2 linked regions of the Homo sapiens genome follow. The protein of the gene in region 1 interacts with the protein of each later gene in a biochemical or structural test. Each region holds a gene or a part of one and is shown in the gene's direction. Other genes may lie near its edges.

Region 1 (7,744 bases):
GTATTTGGTAGAAGGGGAACAGGTGTTGATGCCGATGGCATGCACTGCCTTTAAGGTTTAATGGAGTAAGTCCACGTGTGCCCAATGGCACTGGGGAGCACTGGGGTCAGACTCGGACTGGCCTGAGGGCAGCTTCCTCACACTGTCCCCATGATCCTCTGCTCTGGCCCAGGGGGAGGTCTGGCTGGGTGGGCTGGGCAGGGCACAGTGACACCAAGCCCACCCCCGACATGTTCCAGATGAAAGTCTGGAGTGTGGTGAGCACTTCCCTGCCCAGGCCACCCCCAGCCACAGCCTCCTATGCACATCTGGACCCCTGGGGTGGCCACAAAAGGATCTGGCACCTCCCAGTGGGAGACGGTTGAGGTGGCAATGAGGTATGGGCTCTGACCCTCCCAGGGAACTCTCCTGGCCTGATGCCCACCCTATCCCTAGAGGGCCTCATGAAGACATCCAGGTCTGGCCCATGGGCAGTTTTGGGGGCTGGTTCTCCCATACCTAGGCCCTGGATGAAGACGCAGCTCTCGGGCACCCTTGGGCCTCTACGAGGAAGCTAACAAGGAAGAATGGGGACCTGCCACCCCCAGATGGGCTTCCATACCAGGCCCCCTCCTGAGTCACCCTCTGGGGCAGTCAATAGTGGGGGAGCGCCCGGGACCCCCAAGCCTACTACCTGGGCCTTCCTCTTGTGCCTTTTCTTCCTCCTTTTCCTCCTGGACTCTAAGAAAGACAATAGGCCCCCGGTCCTCAGGGCAGGTGCTCAGTGCATGTGCACTGCACATGCTGTGCACGCAGGAGGGGGATGTGGGCAAGACCTCTCCAACAAGCCCCCTCCCACTTTCCACGGTGTCCCGCCCCCCCCCAACAGGGCCCTTGACGGCACTGGAGGAGCCAGACCCATTTGTGGGACCCCCCCCACCCCTCCCTGCAAGCACTGACAGCCTCAGAGAGCAGCAGAGGCCCCTCACTCCTGAACATCCCTCCAAGGGTGCCAGGACAACGAGCCTTGAGCCAGGGAGACAAGGGAGTCGGTGTCCCTGACCCCCAGAGCTTTCAGGGCAAGGGCACAGGTGGGACCCCTGGCCCAGAGCCAGAGCCAAGAGTTCAGCCAGGTGTGGGAATGGTCAGTCCTGGCATGGACCGGGCAGCCCAGGAGGGCAGAGGGGGCCCCGTATCTGGGCCCTCTTACTCATGGTAGAGACAGGTCCCCAAGTGAGGTAGCAAGGGGGCTGGGTGACAGCCAAGGCCCCTCCCACCTGAGTTCTGACTGGGGATCATATACCAGGCCCAACAGCCCTGGGATGAGGGCATGGGGCAGGAAGCCCCCAGCCAGCCTGAATCCTGGGGGGCAGTCCCAGGAGCCACCTGCTGTGCCCCGACAGCTTCCCTACCCCAGGTGACACACACCCCTCCCTCTGGGATCAGCAGCCTGCAGGTGTGTCCTCAGTGTCAGACCCCAGGGGCCACCGAGAGACCCTGAGGACTCCGGAGACCCAGGCAGGTGGGGCCCGGCCCAGAAAGGACTCTTTGGGCCCACTGGAGGTGCTGCCTGATCACGTCTGTTTTTCTTTCAGCCAAACCCAGGCAAGGGTCCTCAGCAGCCAGGGCTGTGCTGGCTTCACGTGGCAGGAAGGCCCTCTGCAAGGGGGATGGGCAGGTGCCCCCTGGCCCACCAGCCTGGTTCCAGCGGCCCATTTGGTCTGCTTCCCCACCATGGGTTCCTTGTCCTCTCACACCTGTCCTGGTGGGGCTTCCATGTGGCCAAGGCCCAGGGGCGTGAGGGGGCTTCTGGGGAGCCCAGGGCAGCAGGCCATTCTCTGGGGGACCCAGGACTTATGGTGTGCCCAGCCTGGCCTTGGCTCAAGGAGGACCTCGGGGTTCCTGGAGGTACCTGCAGCGGAACTCCATGTCCCGACTCCCAGTGGACTTGGATGTGGGGGGCCCTTGGTTCCATAATAATTTCAAACAGAGCTGCTGAGCTCATGTCCCTTCTGAATGTGTCCTGGACAGCCCTGGGACCATGGGGCAGGCTTAGCCCCGGAAGCCCATGGGGACCCCCATATCAGGCCCTGCCTAGGCCCATCAGGACTAAGAGGGAAGTTGGGAGATGCCCCCACAGCAGCATGGGCACCTGCATCTGGCCCCCTTGGTGGCCAATGACGGGCATGCCTAGAAGGAGCCAGGGTGGCACCCCACCAGCAATCCCAGACACCTTGGAAAATGCTGTTCAATGAGGAAGCCGGTCCCGTCAAGGCCATGAGAGAGAAAGGTGAGCATGGCATCCCTGCAGCCCAGCCAGCCAGTAGCATGCCCTGGGTCCTTGGTCCCAACCTGTGGAACAGTGTCCCCCTCCCAGGGCACAATTCGCAGGCCAAGAGGGGCCTGGCCTAGACCCCAGCCCTGGGAAGAGCGGGGAACCAGAGGTGTGGTGGGCTCCCAGCTGCAGTCAGCATGGCCATGCAGGGGGCCCTGGTACCACGGAGCTCTGCACTGTCACAATTCACCTCGCAGGGGCCGGCGAGATCCCGAAGCCTCGCAGCAACTGCTGCAGCCACAGCAGGCGCCACCACCACATGCCTTCCAGCCGCCAGTGCAGGGTTTCCCGACAGCAGGGTGTCCTGCAGCCCTCGCCTCAGCGGCTCAGACGCTGAAGGTATCTGTGGTTCATGTTTCTAGTGCTCCCACCAAAGAGAATCACTATGGAGGATGCTCTTGGTCCTGAGGTGAGCAAAACAGCACGCCCTGTGAATGGAGCCGGCTTCTTTCCTGGCCACCATGCTTGCTGGATGGGCCCACGGAGCAAGTGGCCTTGAGACGGGCATGGGAACGGAAGAGGCTCAGCATCCTGCACGTGCCCTTACCGAGGCTCACCAGGCTGACACCACTGCTGAGCGCCCCTCCGTGGATGAGACACTTGCACCCAGTCTCTGGGTTGGCACCATTTCCCAGGAGGACCAGCTGGCCACCTGCTGGCAGGCTAATCACACTGTGGAGGGGGCTGAGATTGGCTTTCACTGCACCAAGCCACAATGTGGACGTGGATTTGCCGGCCCTGCAGTGCACACAGCACTGCTTCTGACCAGGACACCCCATTCACAGCTGGGGATGTGCAGCATTGCGCTCCCACCTCAGGGCCTTGGCTCTGCCACCTCGACTTGGAATGTTCTCAGCTCCCTCCAGGCTTCTAGAAGCATCTGGGACACAGCTCATGGCTGGATAAGCACCCGAGGCCCCACAACCCAAACAAGCTTCCCATCCTCATTTTATTTTTTGTCAAACTTATGAAAATTTATTAAGATATGACTTACATCCCTGGTAAGTGCACAGCTTAAAAGATATTCACAGATGGAACACACCAGCCCCCAGATCACAAAGCCAACCATGCCCAGCCCCTCCCAACACCCCCAGCCCTGAAACCAGTGTTCTGACTTCTGACAGCACCACGAGCCTGCCTTTTGTACTTTACACTCATGGAAGCATAACCACCTTCATGTTTTAAAATAAATGTTTACTTTTGAAATGACTTTAGATACACAGAAAAATTGAAAGGCACTATAGTGTACTCCTACACCTTCCATCCAGCTGCCCTTAATAATGACATTTTGCATTACCATGGCACGTTTGTCCAAACTAAGAAATTTAGGCCGGGTGGGCTGGGCGCGGTGGCTCACGCCTGTAATCCCAGCACTTTGAGAGGCCGAGGCGGGCGGATCACAAGGTTAGATCGAGACCATCCTGGCTAACACGGTGAAACCTCGTCTCTACTAAAAATACAAAAATTAGCCGGGCGTGGTGGCAGGCGCCTGTAGTCCCAGCTACTCAAGAGGCTGAGGCAGGAGAATCGCTTGAACCCGGGAGGCAGAGGTTGCAGTGAGCCAATATCGTACCACTGCATTCCAGCCTGGGCGAGAATGAGACTCCGTCTCAAAAAACAAAACAAAACAAAACAAACCCCAAAAACAAAAAAGAAAATTAAGCTGGGTGTGGTGGCTCACACCTGTAATTCCAGCAATTCGAGAGGTCGAGGCAGGAGGTTCAGGTTCACTTGAGGCCAGGAGTTTGCGACTAGCCTGGGCGACATAGGTAGACTGTCTCTGGAGGAAAGTAAAAAGCATTAGCCAGGCATGGTGGCGTGAGCCTATAGTCCCATCTAGTCAGGAGGCCCAGGCGGGAGGATTGCACATGCCTGTAGTCCCAGCTACTATGGAGGCTGAGGCAGGAGAATCGCTTGAACCCGGAGGTCAGAGGTTGCAGTGAGCCGAGATCTCGCCACTGCACTCCAGCCTGGGCGACAGAGCAAGACTCCGTCCTAAAACAAAAAAAAGTTACAGTGCAAAGTACTAGTTGTGATGTCATGATGCCTGCAACTTTGAAATAGTTTAACGACAATACGTGTATACATAGCTACAGGTGGGGAGAGAGTGACGAGCAGAAATGGCAAAGTGCTAGGTTGTCTGATTTAGGCGGAGGTATATAGGTGTTCACTGCACTGTTTTCAACTGTTCCGTATGCGTTAAAATGATCGTAATACAATGTTAGAGGGAGAAAAAAAACCCCGCCTGTCTTCTGCGCAGTCGCCATGGGCACGAGCCGCACGCGGAGCCTTACGACCACCTTCAGGTCCCACACACTCCACTCCAGCCGTCCCTCCAGACTCCATCTGCGCATGCTCTTGCCCCACCGCGCCCGCCCCGCCCCTCGGGCGTACGTGTGCGCGCAGGGCGCAGGCGCGCGGGTCCCGGCAGCCCGTGAGACGCCCGCTGCTGGACGCGGGTAGCCGTCTGAGGTGCCGGAGCTGCGGGAGGATGGAGCCGCTGAAGGTGGAAAAGTTCGCAACCGCCAAGAGGGGAAACGGGCTGCGCGCCGTGACCCCGCTGCGCCCCGGAGAGCTACTCTTCCGCTCGGATCCCTTGGCGTACACGGTGTGCAAGGGGAGTCGTGGCGTCGTCTGCGACCGCTGCCTTCTCGGGTGCGTAAGGAGCGCCCTCGCCTACCTGAGTCGCGAGCTGTGTGGGGTGCTGGGGAGGGGGGGGCGTCGGGCGGCCGGCAGCCGCGGGACTCCTGCTGGATGGGGCTGCACAGGCAGCTTGGCGGTGCTGCCCCTGACGCGCGTGTGCCCGGGGGCGGGTCGCTGCTGACAGGCCCCGCCCGGACACCCCCCTAGGTTGCCGCAGCGGGGCTGGGAGGGGGCCCAGGCTCAGCCACTGCCCCCCAACCTGGGCTGCGGTGGAAATGGGAAAGCCATTGGGCAGACTTGAGGGGGAAGCGTTGTGCCGGGGATAATTTTGCTGGGAGACGAAAAGTCTGTGTGCTGGACAGTCTTCCTTGGTGCGGCTGTGGAAATCACACGTGGCGGGCGTGGGGCTGGGTGGGAGCTGGGATGAGTATAAATCAGGCTCCCCTGCAGAGGCCCCGCCGGTAAAGCATCAGGCTTGCAGCAGGTGGAAGAATCTTGATGTCTACGGTGCACCTCTGTGGTCTGGGTTGTGTGTGGCCTGGGGATACGAAGAGGAACGGGACCTCCTCAAAGAGCTGATCAAGTGAGAGAGAGAATTACAGTGTACCAGAAGGGCTGAAATAGAGGGGCAATTAATGTGCTGTGGGAGCATCAGACACGGGTCCCCCGTGTGCTGTGCCATTTAATGGCTGTGCAGGCATGTCTAACTCTTAACCACCATTCTAGATGCAGGGATTCACGTGAAGGTGTTTTGGAAGCCTGGACGCGCTGTGCCGGTGTAAAGTGCTATGTGAAAGCAATTTATGGAAATGTGTAACATACATGAATAATAGGAACTGCATTCAGTCAACAAATATTATTGAGCTTCTGTGTGCGAGGAAGAAGAGTTCTATTTTGAGATGAGTGCGATGATTTTGTGCATGGCCGCTTTTCAGACCTGCCAGTCTGAGATTTAGGTGGGTGGAGGTGGGACGGTAAGTGCAAAACTCGTATCTGTAATTTGACCATTGTTCTTACTTTGTTCTCATTTGATTCATAATTCAGGAATATGACTTTGCATTTTAGAGCTACCAAATAATAATTTTGTCTGTTGCTTTCTGAAGTAATGATAACAGCGAAAACATCTGTTCGGGAGAGAGCAGCATCTTGAAGTTTTTGTAAACTGTGTGGTTGAAAACAATTCGTTCCTTTCAAGATAGTTCTTGGAACAGAAAAGTTTTGGAATGAATAAATGGTGACAAATTGGCAATTGAATCATTAGAGCTGAAGTTGAGTCTTGTGACACACGGAATTGTGCATTTCCAAAATAAGCTACACAAACCCTTTGTGGGTGGGATGCTTGTTGATTTACCATACTATTTCATTAGTCTCATTCATTTTTCCTGTTTGCAGTAACTGGGGATTTAAGCAAAAAAGGAATTTAATGAAAGAGTTTTGGGGGAGTTCTCAGTGTTGCTTTAAAGTCTGCCAAGACTTGACTGGGCATCGGCTGAACCAAGTTAGGATTGCACTGCAAAAGTAGCTGGGGCTGGGATCTGGGGTGTATATCACTTCTGTCGCCTGATAATATTGGATTCTGCAGTAGGTACCACGAACACCATAGACACTGGACCCTGGTGCTGCTGCTGCTGCTGCTCCTTGGGAAACTCACTGTTGCTGGAGAGTGATTCTCTCAACCATTCTTCTTTGTGATACTGGCTTTTATTCAAAGTCCTCAGTGAGTGTCTTGGATTGGCTAAACTTAGGTCACTGCCTGCACCCCTAGCGCGAGGGAGGTTGAGACGGTATTTAGCCTTTTTGGCTTTTAAGATAGAAGGCAGGCTCACTCTACTTCCCACCGATAGTTATCCAGTGGGGAAATCAGCAAACATAAACATAGAAAAAGGGATATAAGTAAATGCTAAGCATCTAAACAAAACAAGCTAAACAGATTCTTCATAATGACTGACAAATACTTACTAGTATTTTACACAGACACAAAATATTTGCACTTACTTTGGATTGCCAGGATACACAGTTCACTTGTGTTGTGGTAGTAGTTGCTCTGTTTGAACACTCCCATTTTAGTGGTTATAGTGTTCCAAAGAGCCTGGTTGGGAATCACTGCAACCTGAAAATAGTGTTAGGGAAATGTTAGCGCATTGTTTGATGCAGTTTTCTGCCACTGTTGAATGCCTGTCCTTGAGGGATAAGTTTCTGTATTACTTGTCATCTTGTAAGTAAAATTTGTTTCTCTTTATTCACTGTCCATTGTGAAGTCTTTAAGAATAGTGCATCTTTCAGTTTTTGTAGCCCCAGTGTCTAACACATAGTAAGCCCTTAGTTTTAGTATGAATGTCTGGCAGAATTTTCCTCCTAACTGCCCCTGTCCTTCTGCTGCCTTCCATCTGAATTAAGTATGGAATGAAAATGTTAGTTTGTAGCAATTAACAGTTACATGGGAAAGGAAAAATCAAAATAGAATTAAAAAAACAGATATTGATGATAATTACAGTCATGCACTGCATAACGACATTTTGGTCAGCGAAAGACCAGATACATGACAGTGGCCCTGTATGATTATATCATTTTTTAACTGTACTTTTTCTGTGTTTAGGTACATTTAGATACACAAATACTTACCATTGTTTTACAGTTACCTACAGTATTCAGTACAGTAACACGCGGTGCAGGTTTATAGCCTCAGAGCAGTAGGCAGTACAGACAATACCTGCTAGCCTAGGTGTGTAGCAGGCTGTATGTACAGTCTGGGTTTGTGTGAGGATACACCATGATGTTCCTACAACA
Region 2 (7,025 bases), on another chromosome or scaffold:
TTAACATTGTTTCAAAAAACCGCTGGTATAAATGTTCTTTGAGAGAGGGCAGTGAGTATGGCCATTAAAGATGGCATGAAAACATGTATGAGGGGCGGATTTAAAAGAGAAAAGTTAAAGAGGAGGAAAAACAAATGTGGTTGGGAATCTAAAAAAGATTGGTAACAGAAGAGGATTGTTGATAATCAAAGAAAAAATTGAATTGGCATGTGGACCATCAAAAAAATAGACATTATTCATGTTCTCTTTTGGTCCCCAGAAGAAGCTATTTTATGACCATTCTCTTCGAAGTGTCTGTCTTAAATAAGTCCTACTTTGGGTTTCAGGAATGCAGAAATGCGAGCAGCAGAGGTGATACACAAGCAAAATACAAATGGCTTGTCTTTTGCATTCAGATATATTTCGATATAGTTTTAAAATTTGGTGAAAGAACATTTGAAACACCCAAATTCAAATTCCAGCTCTCTGATGAACCTGAGACCAGTAAATGTGTCTTCATCTTTAAATCATGGGATTGTTGTAGCATTAAATTGAGAGAACACTTGTACATTTTACTTTTCAAACTAGAAAGCTTATTGTACATTTATACATTTTGTACATTGTACAAAGCTCAGATGTTCATTGTACATTTCTTTCTTTATCCCCATTTCTTATCACATTACGGTACTTGTCATTTTTTAAAAAATTGCTAATTCACTTTATTTTATTTATTTTTTGAGACAGAGTCTCACTCCGTCACCCAGGCTGGAGTACAGTGGCGCGGTCTCAGCTAACTGTAACCGCTGCCTCCTGGGTTCAAGTGATTCTCCTGCCTCAGCCTCCTGAATAACTGAGATTACAGGCGCCCGCCACCATGCCTGGCTAATTTTTATATTTTTAGTAGAGATGGGGTTTCAGCCTGTTAGCCAGATTGGTCTCGAACTCCTGACCTCATGTGATCCACCCACCTTGGCCTCCCAGAGTGCTGGGATTACAGGCGTGAGCCACAGTGCCCAGCTCTAATTCACTTTAGTTGCATTAGACAAAACAAGCTAAATGTACTAGTTAAATTGACATTTTAAATATATTTTGAATTAAAATTACACTGAATACCTCAGTCTTATTCTAATAAATATTCTTGTTTGACGTCAGTGCCAGCATAAGAAGAAATTGGAAATCATAAAGTATAGAATTAGTGGTCTTTTATTGGCACTGCTTTAAACTTGGAATGGCTTTGCTAGATATGACCATTATCTATTTTTCTTATATGTTGGCAGTTATTCTTTTTAATTGTTTTTATAAAAGGGAGATGGAGGAAAAACTCCTTTAGGTTAGGAGTGTATGCTGATAAACAGGTCTCAACCAAGAGTGCGTTGGCATACGCATTACTGTGAAAAAGGGTTGTCAAATAAGGAGACAAAATTTTCATAGCTTTTTTTTTTTTTTGGTCCTATCTCCTTTTAGTAATTGACTATATTGATCTTTTGTAAGCACGGGTATATGGAAGGAATAAAAATATTAGGGACCAGTATTATTGTGGCTACAGTTGTTATGAAGCCTAAATCAATCCTGACTCAAATTGAGCTCCTAATCATTTTACAGACAAGTGTAGACAGTACTCTCTTTTATGCACATGTCTTGGTAATAATTTTGCTTTCTTTTTCCTCCCTGTCTCACTAACAAATGCTTGCATATACTCACAATGACTCCTTTACATAAGGCTAAAATGTTTTTTGCTTTAAATTGGACCAGAACTTAAATGCTCACATAGTTTAATTTCAAAAAACTATGAGGAAAGGTGAGACACTGTACTAATAAATATAGCATCATTTCCACAGAACCAAGTAAAATAGAGTGGGTTATTGTCTCATAAGAAATGTGATTACTTAAATAAACTGTCTTAATGCCAGAAATCTATATTGTATTATCATCCTATCAGCAGTCAGAATACCATCCTACCTAGTGAGTATAAATGAATATTATGGTGAGGTTAATAATTATGATAGGGTGGGAATTTACAAAGGTTATAAAGCCATTTGAAGATTTACAAATGAATGTTCTGATAAGTTTTAATAAAAATTGAATTTTCTTTTGCTGAAATTATTAATGATATAATTCAGAAATATAGCCTATTTAAAACAAAACTTGATTCCCTTGCCTATAATTATAAATTACATTATTTTTCTTCCTTGAGGTCCTACTAGTAGAGATAGAAGTTCTCCTCCCCCAGGTTACATTCCAGATGAATTACACCAGGTTGCCCGGAATGGGTCATTCACTAGTATCAACAGTGAAGGAGAGTTCATTCCAGAGAGCATGGACCAAGTAAGCAAAAGTTTGATTTTTTAAATTTAATTTAAAGAGATGTTGTCAGGGTCAGTGTGATTTGGCACGTAACTGGGTGTGTGTGTGTATTATCTCTTCTCTAATTACATATCTTCTTAACTGAACAAAATAGAAAAAATATAGGAAAATGCCCATTAATTTACATGTGCCTGTATAAAGAAAGCTGGAATACAGCTGGTTTTATATTGCTCAATAAGTGAATGAATGAGAGTGAGTGAATGATAATGCATTTGCTTTGTAATTTAACAGCCAGATTTTTTTTTTAAACATTTGAAAGATAGAATGAAACTACAAATATTTACCTTTGTGAAACTGAGGTTTGTGAACTTTCTGAAACATTTAAAAAATACTTCAATTTTATAGTATTAAAATGTTTTCATGGAGTTGCTGTTATTCCCTTAACATTGCATTGCATCGCATTATATGTTCACACTATTATAGTAGTTTACATTTTCTAATAATGTAATAGTCATAGTGTCATTAGTCTCAGTTTGGGTGGGGCCATTGTTCAGTTTTCAGTAAGCAAAATAGTGTGAAATATTGTAGCTTTTAATTATTTAGTCAATAGTCTATAGAGAAAGAATATTTTTCTCTTAGGAAATTTTGAAGTCGTGGCTTGCTTACAAGGGACATTTGAAAATGAGTAACTCTGGAGAGTGACCACTATTGAGTATGGAATTGTTCTAAAATTGTGAGTGAGGGTTGCACAACTCTCAGTATTCTAAAAGCCTTGACTTGTATACTTTAAATGGGTGAATTTTATGTTACATGAAGTATGTCTAATTAAGGCAGGTTTTTTTAATAAGCAACTTTTGGTTATATCAAATTGAATCATGGTGGAACTCCTTTTTTTCCTAGATGCTGGATCCATTATCTTTAAGCAGCCCTGAAAATTCTGGCTCAGGAAGTTGTCCATCACTTGATAGTCCTTTGGATGGGTAATGTTTATCGTAGTTTTTGGAGGGTTTATTTGTTTATTTGAGACAGAGTTTTGCTGTCACCCAGGCTGGAGCGCAGTGGCGTGAATGCGGCTTACTGCAGCCTTGACCTCCTTGGCTCCATCAGTCCTCCCACCTCTGACCCCCGAGGAACTAGGACCAAAGGCATTTGCTATTAATACCACATCTGGCTATTTTGTTTGTATTATTTGTAGAGATGGGGGTCTCACTTTGTTACCCAGGCTGATCTTGAACTCCTGGGCTCAAGCGAACCTCCTGCCTTGGTCTCCTAAAGCGCTGGGATTACACACATGAGCCACCATGCTCAGCTTACTGTAGTTTTCTTTTTTAATAGATATGAGTAAATATTCATACAGATAGAATGTTGAATTATCAGTAACTTTTTTGTGCTACATTCAGAGGAATAGAATTGGTACTTGTGTATGATGACGGCAGATGAATTTTTGCACAGTGTGGATAAATCCCTTTACCTCATGGGACTCAGTATCTTTGTTAGTTAAAAGGAAATCTGATTATAATAGTTTGAGTATTCCTGCTTGTCAAAATTGTGTGTTTGAAGGCAAATCAAATTTAGAATTTATGTACATTTACTTTTAAAACTGTGTTTATGAAAAGTGCTATCAACTTTTACATTAATATGTTTGGTTTTGGAAATTTCCTGAGTTATTTCACCTGTTCAGGATTATGTTCATTCTGGCACCAGATTAGAAATAATTTAAATTCTTGGAAATTGTAGCCCACTGTGTCACATTGGTACATGTAGGCAAAAATTTAAGTACTTTTGTGAAAAAGCTGTTCAGGAATATGAGCAGGATAAAGTTGCAAAATGTGAATTTTTTGTTACACGTGCTCCCCCTCCTGGTCTCAATAGGACAGTATTCTTGGTAATCCTCTCTGGAATTGCTTTATGAAAGCAAATTCTGAAAAAAATAACTAATATTGCGTGGGAATGCACATTTAAGTTTCTTTTATCCATGTATATGAAATTTCTGTCTGTGTCAATGTCTATCTTAAGGTAGACATTTAAGAAATTCAGGGAAGTAGTAACGAGAAAGCTATATATTTGAGTACTTACCATTTGCAAAACACTATCCTGGATACCTTACTTATGTACACTTGAATAGTTGGAAATTATCTTTTTTGTTGATGCAGAAGGGTGATTTGCCAAGGTTACATAGTTAAGTGGCAGAGCTTGGATTGAAACACAGTGCTTAGAAACACCTAATGATTCCAAAATACGTCATTCTTCCACTGTACTGTAAGGTTAATTTTAAGTCATGCTCTTTGCCTACATGTACCAAGTAAGTGTAGTTTTTCTTTTTTAGGTATGCTAACCTTTCAAAGTGAGCTCCTTTACACAAACACATACAGAGAGGCACAGATAGATATAGATATTGCTCAAAGATTTTCTTTTTAATGTCTTACGTTCTTTCTGTAAACTTAATGTGATGTTTTTTCTTTATAGAGAGAGCTATCCAAAATCACGAATGCCTAGGGCTCAGAGCTACCCAGATAATCATCAGGAATTTTCAGGTTAGACTTTATAAATTCTAAATGTTTAAATGTTTATGTCATTGGATAATGTTTTGGCTGGGAGGGAGAGGGGGGATTTTTGAAAAGTCAAATAAAGATTTATAAATGTGCTTTTCATCATTAGAAATATTTAACTTTTTTTTTTAAATAAAAGATAACCATCTTATATGTCTTAACAGACTATGATAACCCTATCTTTGAGAAATTTGGAAAAGGAGGAACATATCCAAGAAGGTATCATGTTTCATATCATCATCAAGAGTATAATGATGGTAAGTTTCTAGCAATTAGACCACAAGAATAGTTAAAAAATCTCAACAACAAAAATAAATACAAAAATTTTTTAAAACCTCATATTTGTGTTAATACCATTAGAAAAATATGAGGAATTGTGTTATAACAAAAGTATAATGGGCATTTTGGCTTTATGACAACTTATAAGACTTGGTTATCCCTTAAAAGAAAATGAATAATTTTTTGTTTTAAGAGACAAGGTTTTGTTGCCCAGGCGGGAGTGCTGTGGCATGATCTTAGCTCACTGTAACTTTAAATTCCTGGGCTCAAGTGATCTTCCTGCCTTGGCTTCCTGAGTTCAGGTGTGTGCCATTACAGGCATTTGCCATCACACCCAGCTAATTAAAAAATTTTTTTTGTAGAGACAGTGTCCCACCATGTTGCCCAGGCTGGTCTTGAAGTCTTGGGCTCAAGCGGTCCTCCTGCCTCAGCCTCCCAAAGTGCTGGGATTACAGGTGTGAGCCACTGCACTTGGCCAAGAAGGAGTAATTTTCTTTCTTTCTTTTTTTTTTTTCCCCTGAGACAGAGTCTCACTCTGTTCTGTCACCCAGGCTGGAGTGCAGTGGCATGATCTCTGCTCACTGCACCCTCCACCTCCTGGGTTCAAGCGATTCTCACCTGGCTAATTTTTGTATTTTTAGTAGAGATGGGGTTTTGCCATGTTGGCCAGGCTGGTCTCAAAACTCCTGATCTCCAGTGATCCACTTGCCTTGGCCTCCCAAAGTGCTAGGATTACAGGCGTGAGCCACCGTGCCCGGCCTAATTTTTGTATTTTTAGTAGAGATGGGGTTTTGCCATGTTGCCCAGGCTGGTCTCGAACTCCTGGGCTCAAGTGATCTGCCTGCCTTGGCCTCCCAAAGTGCTGGGATTACAGGCATGAGCCACTGCACCCATCCAAAAGGAGTAACTTTTAAATGATATTAGAAAATTACTCTTTGATGATGAGATTGATACTTACATCATCCCTTTAAGAAAAAAAATTACTGGCCAGGTGCGGTGGCTCATGCCTGTAATCCCAGCACTTTGGGAGGCCGAGGCGGGTGGATCACCTGAGGTCAGGAGTATGAGACCAGCCTGGCCAACGTGATGAAACCCCGTCTCTACTAAAAATACAAAAAATTAGCTGGGCATGGTGGTGGGCGCCTGTAATCCCAGCTACTTGGGAGGCTGAGACAGGAGAATCGCTTGAACCCTGGAGGCGGAGGTTGCAGTGAGCCGAGATTGTACCACTGCACTCCAGCCTGGGCAACAAGAGTGAAACTCCATCTCAAAAAGAAAAGAAAAAAATTACTACCTGTGAACTTCTGCATCTTTGTTTTAGATTTTAAAATCATTATTGGAAATGAGAGTAAATTTTTTTCCTCCTTTTTATCCAGAAGTGAGGAGGTTCCTTTTTAAGATGTGTGTGTGTATGTTTCTGTGTGCACACTCATACATGTTTTATCATAAGAGATTATTTGAATTTGTATTCAGATCCTGTTTATTTTTTCCCACCCAATCATTCCTATTTGAGTTTCTTAGCCTAGTCACAGGACAAATTTCTATTCTCTACATTACAAATTTTAAATACTTTAAAAGTATAACATATTAATAAAAGGTATAAGGTCATTCTCTTTTCATTTTTTAGGTCGTAAAACTTTTCCAAGAGCTAGAAGGACCCAGGGGACCAGCTTACGGTCTCCTGTGAGTTTCAGTCCTACTGATCATTCCTTAAGCACTAGTAGTGGAAGCAGTATCTTTACCCCAGAGTATGATGATAGTCGAATAAGAAGAAGGGGAAGTGACATAGACAATCCTACTTTGACCGTAATGGACATCAGCCCACCCAGCCGTTGTAAGTAATAGAACTTGGTATAGTGAAATGTAGAGCAGAATCTTTGCAGAATTTTATATTATTAAAAGGAATAAATACTA

The links. The genes of interacting proteins can lie anywhere in the genome.
Region 2: the proteins of SMYD3 (region 1) and MAP3K2 are reported together in a solved structure, tested with the Homo sapiens proteins (2 studies listed by BioGRID and IntAct, with this or other methods).

What each region holds. Positions count from the first base shown.
Region 1 is NC_000001.11:246,504,279-246,512,022, reverse strand, and holds the start of SMYD3 (histone-lysine N-methyltransferase SMYD3), read left to right. Parts: upstream 1-4,743; 5' UTR 4,744-4,805; coding exon 4,806-4,969; intron 4,970-7,744. UniProt on the Homo sapiens protein: Histone methyltransferase. Specifically methylates 'Lys-4' of histone H3, inducing di- and tri-methylation, but not monomethylation. Also methylates 'Lys-5' of histone H4.
Region 2 is NC_000002.12:127,321,966-127,328,990, reverse strand, and holds part of MAP3K2 (mitogen-activated protein kinase kinase kinase 2), read left to right. Parts: intron 1-2,173; coding exon 2,174-2,304; intron 2,305-3,183; coding exon 3,184-3,263; intron 3,264-4,749; coding exon 4,750-4,817; intron 4,818-4,996; coding exon 4,997-5,089; intron 5,090-6,738; coding exon 6,739-6,945; intron 6,946-7,025. UniProt on the Homo sapiens protein: Component of a protein kinase signal transduction cascade. Regulates the JNK and ERK5 pathways by phosphorylating and activating MAP2K5 and MAP2K7. Plays a role in caveolae kiss-and-run dynamics.